Homo sapiens: one gene and its partners. The protein of the gene in region 1 purifies or fractionates together with the protein of each later gene. This does not show direct contact. Each region holds a gene or a part of one and is shown in the gene's direction. Other genes may lie near its edges. The genes, in order: DHX9, STAU1 and ILF2.

Evidence for each region.
Region 2: the proteins of DHX9 (region 1) and STAU1 purify together in Homo sapiens (affinity purification with mass spectrometry; 6 studies listed by BioGRID and IntAct, with this or other methods). This does not show direct contact.
Region 3: the proteins of DHX9 (region 1) and ILF2 fractionate together in Homo sapiens (co-fractionation; 5 studies listed by BioGRID and IntAct, with this or other methods). This does not show direct contact.

Annotation. Positions count from the first base shown.
Region 1 is NC_000001.11:182,837,344-182,841,088, forward strand, and holds the start of DHX9 (ATP-dependent RNA helicase A), read left to right. Parts: upstream 1-2,003; 5' UTR 2,004-2,113; exon of another isoform or gene 2,114-2,248; intron 2,249-3,745. UniProt on the Homo sapiens protein: Multifunctional ATP-dependent nucleic acid helicase that unwinds DNA and RNA in a 3' to 5' direction and that plays important roles in many processes, such as DNA replication, transcriptional activation, post-transcriptional RNA regulation, mRNA translation and RNA-mediated gene silencing.
Region 2 is NC_000020.11:49,186,698-49,190,442, reverse strand, and holds the start of STAU1 (double-stranded RNA-binding protein Staufen homolog 1), read left to right. Parts: upstream 1-2,108; 5' UTR 2,109-2,327; intron 2,328-3,481; exon of another isoform or gene 3,482-3,704; intron 3,705-3,745. UniProt on the Homo sapiens protein: Binds double-stranded RNA (regardless of the sequence) and tubulin.
Region 3 is NC_000001.11:153,664,267-153,668,011, reverse strand, and holds part of ILF2 (interleukin enhancer-binding factor 2), read left to right. Parts: coding exon 1-12; intron 13-354; coding exon 355-457; intron 458-2,283; coding exon 2,284-2,349; intron 2,350-2,675; coding exon 2,676-2,792; intron 2,793-3,537; coding exon 3,538-3,616; intron 3,617-3,745. UniProt on the Homo sapiens protein: Chromatin-interacting protein that forms a stable heterodimer with interleukin enhancer-binding factor 3/ILF3 and plays a role in several biological processes including transcription, innate immunity or cell growth.

The DNA of each region.
Region 1 (3,745 bases):
GCTAGGATTACAGGCACACGCCACCTTGCCCGGCTAATTTTTGTATTTTTAGTACAGACAGGGTTTTGCCATGTTGGCCAGGCTGGTCTCAAATTCCTGACCTCAGGTGATCCACCTGCCTTGGCCTCCCAAAGTGCTGGGATTACAGGCATGAACCACCACACCTGGTCTTGTTGAGGATTCTTGCATCTATGTTCATCAGGGATACTGGCCTATAGATTTTTTTTCTTGTGTCCATATCTAGTTTTGGTATCAGGGTAATGCTGCCCTCACAGGATGAGTTTGAGAACTGGTATGAGTTCTTCTTTAACTGTTCAGTAGAATTCAGCAGTGAAGCCATCAGGGCCTGGACTTTTCTTTGATGGGAGACTCTATATTACTGATTTAATCTCATTACTCATAGTTGGTCTTTTCAGGTTTTCTATTTCTTCTTGGTCCAATTTTGGTAAGTTGTATCTGTTCAGGAATTTATCCATTTCCATTTGGTTTCCAATTTGTTGGCATATAGTTGTTCATAATAGTCTCTAATGATCCTTTGTATTTCTGTGGTATCGGTTTAATGTCTTCTAGGCCCCTGCTGCTTTCAACACCCTGAAGGGTACAAAAAAAAAAAAATTAAGGTCTTTCCTTCAATGATTTTATTCTTAATTAAGGAGAACAATCACATGAAGAAAATAATAAGTAAATGATAAACTATGTTGTTCTGATTTTAAGAATGACAGTTTTAAAGGGAGTGATCACTATCAGCTAGAAGGATTAAGAAAAACATAAGGAAAGAGGTGAAAAATAAAGATCCATAGATATAATGAGCCCAGATAATTGATTAGTCTGGATTCCCTGGAACAATCCCAGCTGGAAATGTTTTGTATCATTACCTTCATGGGACGCACTGGAGTTTCAAAATTTAACAGTGACTAGTATAATAATTAAGGACACAATTATTCCAAAGACTTGGAACACAAAATTACTCCAAAGACTTGGAACACAAAAGGTTATCCAATTTAAACAAAAGCAACCTTGCAGATTTTATTCCTACCTTAAAGTAGTTTGCTGAGCACTTACAGTAATGTTCCAGGCACGGCAAGGAGCGACCTGCGTTAGCCAGGCAGAATGCCCGCCTTCACTGAGCTTATTTCTTTCATGGTTTTTTTTTTTTTTTTTGAGACGGAGTCTCGCTCTCTCGCCCAGAAAATGGCGTGATCTCGGCCCACTGCAACCTCCGCCTCCGCCCCCGACCCCGGGGTTCAAGCGATTCTCCTGCCTCAGCCTCCCGAGTAGCTGGGATTGCAGGAGCCCGCCCAGCCACCCAAGCAGCTGGGATTGCAGGCGCCCGCCCCCATGCCCGGCTAATTTTTGTATTTTTTTTTTTTTTTTTAGTAGAAACGGGGTTTCACCACGCTGGCCAGGCTGGTCTCAAACTCCTGACCCCAAGTGATTCGCCCACCTCGGCCTCCCAAAGTGCTGGGATTACAGTCACCACGCCCGGCCAGTTTATTTCTTTCAAGAGACACTGGCGTTCAGACTATCTGAATCAATCCGGTAACTACGCCCACTGAACACCTACTACATGCCAGGTATTGAACTAAGCCGCCCTTCATATGCCATCTCATGTAATTATCTCAACAACCCTACCAAGTTAGCAGCAAGGTTTCCAGTTCTGCCTTCGAAGGGAACCTCCTCTCACCGGAGATCCCTATGACAGACCCTGCGAAATATTTTGCTGCATCAGAATGCTACAGGCCGTCAACTCCCTAACATGCGCAAAAGCGGGCAGCCGATTATCCAGGGTAGTGGATTATCCAGGAGAGTGGATTATCCAGAGTAGCAGGTCTGGCGCGATGCCCGCCCGGCTCAGCCCATCTCCCTAGCAACGAAACCCTTCCGCGCCGCGAGGTTGCTGAGCCCCGCCCCCTCCATTGGCGCGCCCTCGCCATCCCCCGCCCTGGCACGCGCTCTGCGCATGCGTACGCTCGCTGGCCCCGCCCCCTAGCGCCGCGGTCGGAGCCATTTCGCCGATTCCTCCATGCGAGTTGCTGTGCGTTTCTCTGTTGTCTCGGTAGAAGGCCAGAGTCACACACGGTCCTAAGAGCTGGGCACCAGGAAGCGAAGGCTGGTAAGGGAGAGACGTTCCGGCTACCATGCGGGGCGGCGGGGTCGCGGGCGGGCGCCGTGGACCATGGCTCCGCAGCCGGCTTTGTTGCGAAGCGCGGGCGGCGGCGGCGGCTGGGGGTGGGGGAAGGGACGAGCCGCCCGCGGGTCCCCGGATTGCGGGTTGCGTGCGCGCCTCGCCGCGATGCGCTTGCGCCGTCCGGGCAGCCTGTGGCCCCCTCCCCTCTCCTCCGCCCAGCGTTTCCCGCTGCTGCCTCTAGCAGGCAAAGCGCGCTTCCTCCTCTGGCCTGCGTACGCCGGGGCACCGCGGCGGCTGAGGGAAGGGGGTGCTTCGCCTGTGGTGGTTGCCGCCGGGGCGCCACTGGCCTAGGGCTCTTCATTCATTCAAGCCACGAATAACTGGCGCCGTCGTGCAGGCCTTGTGGGTAGAGGAAAAAAAATTGAAGAATGTAAAGGGAGAGCGCCTTTGGCTAGTATAGCGAGGTAAGGCGTCTCGAAGGAGGGAGGCTTTGAGCTGATAACCTCGGCCAACGCGAAGGAAAAGCAGAGCCTGCAGAAGCGGAAGGGATTAGTTATCGCTTAAGGGCAGAAACTGGGCGGGAGCTGAAAGCAGGCCATGTGACTGGAGTGTGGCGAGAAGGCCTTCAAAGGAGAATGGGTTTTAGGGTGGCAAGAGTGGAAACAAAAACCGTGTAGGACAATATTTCACTAGCCCGGGTGTGCAGTAGTGGTGGCAGGAGAGATGGGGAGAAACGAATGGATAGGGGACGTATTTTGAAGCAGAAATGCGTAGTGGTGGAAGGTAGTAGATCTGGAGTCAGGCTACGTTTTCTGGAATTCTTGCGCCTTTTTTTTTTTTTTTTTTTTTGCAAGAGTCTCGCTCTGTCGCCAGACTGGAGTGCAGTGGCGCGATGGCGGCTCACAGCAACGTCGGTCTCCCGGGTTCAAGTGATTCTCCTGCCTCAGCCTCCGGAGTAGCTGGGACTACAGGCGCGCGCCACCACGCCCAGCTAATTTTTGTATTTTTAGTAGAGACGGGGTTTCATCATGTTGGCCAGGATGGTCTCGATCTCTCGACCTCGTGATCCGCCTGCCTTGGCCTACCAAAGTGCTGGGATTACAGGCGTGAGCCTCCGCGCCCGCCCGAATTCTTGCTCTTATAATTAGGAGCTCTGTCTTCCTGAAGCAAGATATTCTTTGTCTCAGTTTCCCCTTCTCTAAAGGGATAGTGATCTTACCTGTACAAGGTTACTAAGGATTAAGTAAAATAGTTCCATTTAGATGATCTATTATGGATATTGTTTGACACACATTAAGGGTTCTACAAGGGATAGCTATGGAGAATCTTAAGGGAGTGGACGACTCTCAACTTGTGCCAGGAGTAACTTGGTGGATGTCGTACCGTTTATGGAAACCGAAATGTAGGGGTAGGGTGTTGGAACAGATTTGAGGGGAAATTTAAAATTCTGTTTTGACTGAGATGCCAAGTTAGCATGCAAATGGGTGAGTTAGTGCCACAGTTGGATGAACTTAATTTTGGACTTTAAAGAGAAACGACGGGCGGGCGCGGTGGCTGACGCCTGTAATCCAGCACTTCGGGAGGTTGAGGCGGGCCGATCAAGAGGTCAGGAGATCA
Region 2 (3,745 bases), on another chromosome or scaffold:
GAGTGGTGGCACATGCCTGTGGTCCCAGCTACTCAGGAGGCTGAGGTAGGAGGATTTCTTGAGCTCAGGAGGTTGAGGCTGCAGTTAGCTGTGCTCATGCCACTGCACTCTAGTTAGGTGACAGAGCGAGACCCTGTCTCAAGAAAAAAACAAAAAAGATGCGGAAGGAGGAAAGAGGGAAGAAAATTGAGACTGGAAGTCATAGACCCACCACTTTTGTCCCTATGGGTGATAGCAAAATCACCTTTGACGAGATTGTCTGATTGTGCGCAGCTTTGGGTTTAGGGAGACCTCTCTGCATCTGCTCCTTTACCCAAGGAGGTATGGGATCCACACTGCTTGGAAGTTAGAAAGAAAAGATCACTTTTAGCAGAGGGCTGGACAATATCTGAATGTTGCTTACTACTGTCTTGGATGGGCACTAAAGGGACGGTGAAAGTCCTTTGACTATTTTTGGTGTTCTGAAATTCAGTGTCATTGCACTTCACAAGAAGCAATGTAAGGAGGCAAGTGTCCTCCCAGGCTTCGCTAAGGCTCCAAAGCCTTGTTTGGAGGGGCCTCTTCAGACACAGCAGCTCGTATTTTGAATTTATATTCCGTTGGCAAGAGAGATTGAGCAATTATTAGATTGAGAGACATTTAAGAAAGAGAGAATTATTTTTAAATAGTGGGGCGGCAGTCCCAGAGTGAGCGGGAGAGAGAAGCTCTGTGCACCTGCAGTTCCTTCATTCATTCTCAGTTTCTTGGACCTCTCACAACGCGAGCATAATTTTCGCTGAGTGTGCAGAAGTTCAAGATTCTTTTTTTTTTTTTTTTTTTTTTTGAGACAGAGTCTCACTCTGTTGCCCAGGTTGGAGTGCAATGGCGTGATCTCGGCTCACTGCAACCTCCGTCTCCCGGGTTCAAGAGATTCTCCTGCCTCAGCCTCCCAAGTAGCTGTGATTACAGGCGCCCACCACTGCATCCGGCTAGTAGAGACGGGGTTTCACCATGTTAGTCAGGCTGGTCTCGAACTCCTGACCTCAGGTGATCCGCCCACCTCGGCCTCCCAAAGTGCCGGGATTACAGGCGTGAGCCACTGCGCCTGGCCAAGATTCTTTACTGGCCACCCTCTCTCCAACCTCCCATACAATACAGCTGCTAAAAACCACTTAGTTTATCTAGGTCTGGGTGAAATAAATAGTAATCTGGCACTTCTCGTCTTTTTTTTTTTTTTTTTTTTTTTTTTTTTTTTTTTTTTTGAGACCAGTGTCTCTTTGTCGCCAAGGCTGGAGTGCAGCGGCGCGATCTCAGCTCACTGCAATCTCCGCCTCCCGGGTTCAAGCGATTCTCCTGCCTCAGCCTCCCGAGTAGCTGTTTACCTACAGGCGCCCGCCACCACGCCCGGCTAATTTTTTGTATTTTCAGTAGAGACGGGGGTTTCACCGTGGTAGCCAGGATGGTCTCGATCTCTTGACCTAGTGATCCGCCCGCCTCGGCCTCCCAAAGTGCCGGGATTAGAGGCCTGAGCCAACGCGCCCGGGCCATTGTCTTTTATCTCACTACACATTTTTCAATTTTATTTATTGTGTATTTTACTTACACAAGAATGTAAGCTCCACGAGGGCAGGGATTTTTGTCAGTTCACCACTACATTCTTAGCTCTTGGAGCAATGCCTTGCATATGGCAAGCATTTAATGAACATTTACAGATGGAGGAAGAAACAACTGCAGGAAGGAGAGAAAGGAAGGCCAGAGGCAGGACAAGAGGAAGAAGCGACAGCAAGGAAGGAAAAAGGAAGTGGAGGAGGAAAGAAGGTAGGCTGGGTTCTCCCAGACCCGCTTCGAGTCCAGCAGGCAGCGCGAAACTCCCACCAGAACTACAACTCCCGGCAGGCCCCGGGACTCAGGACGGGCCGCTGCGGTCCAGGCGGGACAGGGCGCTCCTCCCGCTGGGCCCCCGGCGTGCCTTGCGAGCGCAGGCTCCGCCGCAGTGCCAGCCGGAACTTGTGGTTCGGACCGTGGGTGGGGGTGGGGCCGGGGCCGGGCCTGGAGGCGGGCGGGGGCCGGGGGCGGGCGCCTGCCCCTCCCCCGTCACTTCCTGCCGGGCTGCGGGCGCCTGAGCGGCTCTTCAGCGTTTGCGCCGGCGGCTGCCGCGTCTCTCTCGGCTCCCGCTTCCTTTGACCGCCTCCCCCCCCCGGCCCGGCGGCGCCCGCCTCCTCCACGGCCACTCCGCCTCTTCCCTCCCTTCGTCCCTTCTTCCTCTCCCTTTTTTCCTTCTTCCTTCCCCTCCTCGCCGCCACCGCCCAGGACCGCCGGCCGGGGGACGAGCTCGGAGCAGCAGCCAGGTGAGGCGGCCGGGCCGGGCCGGGCCTGGTGGGGCCCTCGCGGGCGCCGCCGCGGTGGGGAGGTGGGCGGCGGGTGGGGCCTAGGCCTCGGCGGGCCCGCGCACCCCTCCGCCTTCTCCCGGGCCTCTCTCTAGCCCGCGGGGCCTTCCCGGAGGAGGCGGGTCCTCTTGCGTTCCCTCGCCTCGGGGCGCCCTGAGGCCTGGCCCCGGGCGCCCCCATCCCCTCCAGCCCTCACCGGTGCCACAAACAGGTGCTGCGGCCGCCTTTCCTCGTCCCGCATGGCGCGCGCGGGGATGCCGAAGTTATTCCCGGGGCTGGGGCGCAGGCGGGGGGGGGGGGGGGTCCCTGCTTCAGGTCCCCGAGGGCTGGAGCCTCTCAGTGTCGCCGGCCCAGGTCTGTAGCTTAGTGGTTAAGAGCACGGCCCAGGTGTCCAAAACGGGTGCCGAACCCGGCTCTGCCCCGTTAGGCAAGACACTTAAAAAGTCTTTGTGTCTTGGTTGGAAAAGGGGCTGCTAATACCGTCCCTGCCTCTTAAGGTTCAGTGAAATGGGGCGTGTAAAGCGCTTATCAGAGTGCCAGACCCACAGCGTGTCCCAGTAAACCGTCTGCATAATTTATTAGCGTGATATGAAGGTATAATTTAATGGGCAGAGTGGATAGAAGTTGACCTACCTATCCGTTTGGGTTTCTTAGAGGCTGCAGTGTTCCGCGTGCCCATGTCCAGAGCCAGGGCATTGTTTTCAGTTGTTAACATCTGAAAGGGGCGTACGCTTAATTGGGACACTGTAGTTGACAGTCTGTAAACGATGGATGCTGTTTCTTTCCATCTCCGCTTAGGCAACTGCAGGATATTCACCATCTCCCGCAGGATGAGCAACCTGTCCATTTCTCCCCGCCCCGCCATCATCCAGCTTCTTCTTGTCATTCCATTTCTGGGAAAGTTGCTGGCAGAAGCTTCCCTTGAGTTGAGCAAACCTATCTAGAGCACTTGCTGTGTGTTGGGCTCTGAAGGGGGGTGTACGGAGATGGAAAAATTTGTCTGTCTTGTCTTGCTCTACACCTCGATAAGTTTTTTTTCACGGAAGCTTTGCTTATATTCACCCCTCCCTGTTGGCTGACTTTCCTTTTAAGCCCTTGCCCCGCCTCCGTGTTGCAGTATTGCTTGTGTGGAAGTTTTCTTCTGTTCCGCGAAGATACGTGCTTCAGTCTGTTCTGCCACTGTTCTTCGGCTGTGTGGAAGTTTTTAAGGTCACACTTCTCTTCTGCTTGTAGCTTTCATTGTTAAGAGCGTGGTGGAGTTAAATCAGGTTCCCGGTTGATTTTGGCGTTTCAGGAATCCGTGCTTACCAAGTGTAAATTGCATTGCTACTTGTTGAGGTAAAAACTAAAAATACAGTTGGAGTGTAGAGGGAGCAGTT
Region 3 (3,745 bases), about 29 Mb from region 1:
ACATTTGAAGTGGTGAGTTTTTGATGATTTAGTTTTAGGAAAGGGCAGCTTTGGTAGTGTGGAAATTGCCTTGGCTCTTGACTTTTAATTTTCAGTTGTCTATTATCCAAAGCCAAGCCTAAAATGAGAAAGTACAGTGGAATTTCTTTGTAGTACTGATCTTGGGGACAAGACTTGTATCATTGTTATGCTAGCTGTGATGTATCAGGCTTTCATGTGGTGGTTTTGGGGGTGATTTCACCTCTGCTACTTCTTAATTTGGGTAACAGGTAGCTGTGTTGTAACAGTTCTGGGAGGACCTAGGCACCTTTTTTTCTTCTAAATTGTTTTTCCCCGAAATCCTTTTTCCAACAGCAAATTGAAGAAGTTCGACAGGTGGGATCCTATAAAAAGGGGACAATGACTACAGGACACAATGTGGCTGACCTGGTGGTGATACTCAAGATTCTGCCAACGTGTGAGTGTGCCTGTTTCTGGTCATGGGAACAGAACATAGCACTTGGATTAGGGGTTTAGGTATCTTTTTTTGTTTTGAGACAAATTCTCCCTCCGTTGGCCAGGCTGGAGTGCAGTGGTACCATTGTAGCTCACTGCAGCCTTGACCTCCACTACAGCAAGTGATCTTCCCGCCTTAGCCTCCCGAGTAGCTGGGACTACAGATGTGTGCTACCACACCCAGCTAATTTTTGTATTTTTTGTAGATACAGGGTTTCACCGTGTTGCTCGGGCTGGTCTCAAACTCCTGAGCTCAAGCAATCTGCCCACCTCAGCCTCCCAAAGTGCTGGGATTACAGGCGTGAGCCACTGTGCCCAGCCCTTACGGATCTTGAAAGCTCAAATTTCTTGTGAGAAAGGATGTTTGTAAGACAAATGTTTCTAGTTTTTGTTTTTGAGACGGATCTCACTCTGTTGCCCTGGCTGGAGTGTAATGGCGTGATCTCGGTTCACTGCAACCTCCACCTCCTGGGTTCTAGCTGTTTTCCTGCCTTGGCCTCCCAAGTAGCTGGGATTACAGGCAAGTGCCACCATGCCAGGCTAATTTTTCTATTTTTAGTAGAGACGGGGTTTCACCATGTTAGCTAGTCTGGTCTCAAACTCCTGACCTCAGGTGATCCGCCCGCCTTGGCCTCCCAAAGTGTTGGGATTACAGGCGTGAGCCACTGCACCCTGCCTGACAAATGTTTTTTAATGAGTGATAAGGGACAAACGCTGGAGTGTGTGTGTCTGAAAGAATGTATAGCAGGTTACTGTACGGCCATGTTTCTCAACTGGAGGTAATTTTGCCACCCAGGGGATATCTGGCAGTATCTGGCGGTACTTTTGATTGTTAAAACAAGGGGGTGCTACTGGCATCAAAAAAGGGTAGAAGCCAGGTGTGGTGGCTGTATTCCCAGCACTTTGGGAGGCTGAGGCAAGAGGATCACTTGACCCCAGGAGTTTGACCAGCCTGTATAACATAGAGAGATCCTGTACCTACAAAAAGAAAAAAATTAGCTGGGCATGGTGGTGCATGCTTTGGTCCCAGCTACTCAGAAGCCTGAGGTGGGGCCGGGTGCAGTGGCTCACGCCTGTAATCCCAACACTTAGGGAGGCCAAGGCCTGGAGTTCAAGACCAGCCTGGCCAACGTGGCAAAACCCAGTCTCTACCAAAAATATAAAAATTAGCCAGGCGTGGTGGTGGGCGTCTGTAATCCCCACTACTTGGGAGGCTGAGGCAGGAGAGTTGCTTGAACCTGGGAGGCAGAGGTTGGAGTTAGCAGAGATCGTGCCAGTGCACTTCAGCTTGGGTGACAGAGTGAGGCCCTGTCTCAAAAATAAGAAAAAAAGAAAAAAAAAGCAGCAGCCTGAGGTGAGAGGATTGCTTGAGCCCGGGAGGCTGAGGCTGCAGTGAGCTGTGATTGTGCCACTGCACTGCAGCCTGGGTGACAAGAGTGAGACCCTTTCTCAAAAAAAGAAAAAGGATAGAGGCCGTGGATGCTGTTAAACATCCTACATCCCCATCACCCCAAAGATTTGTCTAGCCCAAAATGTTATTAACTGCCACTGACCTGAAAAACCCTGCTGTAGAAAGAGGATATGAGTACAGGAGGGGTCCTGTTCCCTGAGTCTTCCAATTTTTCTGCCCAGGCCTTGGCTTTCTCTTATAAAAGTATATATTCTATTACTTACCCTTGCTTCAGCCTTGGATATGGGACAGAAATGAGAGTGCAAAGTAGCTTAGAGATACATAGAAAGTCTAGGCAAATAAATTATTATAACATTATGTCATTTTCTGTCAATTAGTGGAAGCTGTTGCTGCCCTGGGGAACAAAGTCGTGGAAAGCCTAAGAGCACAGGATCCTTCTGAAGGTTTGCATTTGTTGCTGATTCTGTATTTAGTAGCCATAGGAACCAGGTCTTGTAATTGTAAGTACACTTTCAACAAAATCAGATCAGACCAGATGGAAGAGTAAATGCAGAGTTTTATGTTGTGGGAGTTTTTGGCAGGGGCTTCAGGTGTTCAAGGTGTTCAAGGGAGATCTGTTTGATCTCCCTTCTAAAGCTCTGTATTCTAAATTCTCATTCTGGACTTTGTGCTGTTTTAAAAAATCCACCTGTTCCCCCCCACCCTGGATTTAACTTTGATCATCTAATGGAAATGTGAGTTATAGTTTTTGTTTATTCTGTTTTTTCAGTTTTAACCATGCTGACCAACGAAACTGGCTTTGAAATCAGTTCTTCTGATGCTACAGTGAAGATTCTCATTACAACAGTGCCACCCAATCTTCGAAAACTGGATCCAGAACTCCATTGTTAGTTCTTTTTTTTCCATTGCTGGAAAATTTAGGGGATATTCAAAACATGGTATTGTTGCTGTTTAGTTTACTTAGCTTGTTGCTATTCCACATGCAGCTTCCTGGGAATTGAAGAACTTAGGTTTATTCTGAACTTTGCTCTCTCCCTCTGTAATTTGGAAATAGTTTATCAGCTTGCTAGTGGAATTTTCAGATGGGGTGACCAAGAAAGCATTTGGAGGACTTAAAAAGGACTGAGAAAATATTTATGGAGGGGGATAGGCTTTTGAAGAAAACAGATCTTGCATGTTTCTAGTGATTTTTAGACAAGTGATTTGCTGATATGAGAAACACAGGGTGGCTTAAAGAATTGCAGAGTTGGTCGGGTGCGGTGGCTCACGCCTGTAATCCCAGCACTTTGGGAGGCTGAGGCAGGCAGATCACCTGAGGTCAGGAGTTGGAGACCATCCTGGCCAACATGATGAAACCCCGTCTCTACTAAAATAAAAAATTAGTGGGGCATGATGGCGGTTACCTGTAATCCCAGCTACTCAGGAGGCTGAGGCAGGAGAATTGCTCGAACCCGGGAGGCGGAGGTTGCAGTGAGCTGAGATCACGCCACTGTACGCAATCCAGCCTGGACAACAGAGCGAGACTCCGTCTATCCTGCCCTCCTTCCAAGTTTTTAAGACTGTAGCAGTGGTAATGAGTAGCTTGTTTAATGAAAATGTTTCATCCTGGCATATCATGCTTGTCTTTTTAGTGGATATCAAAGTATTGCAGAGTGCCTTAGCAGCCATCCGACATGCCCGCTGGTTCGAGGAAAATGCTTCTCAGTCCACGTGAGTCCCTCTCTAACCATTTGGATTAAGATAAACTTTTTAACTGCAGTGAATAGCAGGATACCCCCATACTTCCTCTGACAGAACTATTTTGCCTGTGACCTCGTGTCTGGATTTTTATTTTTACCT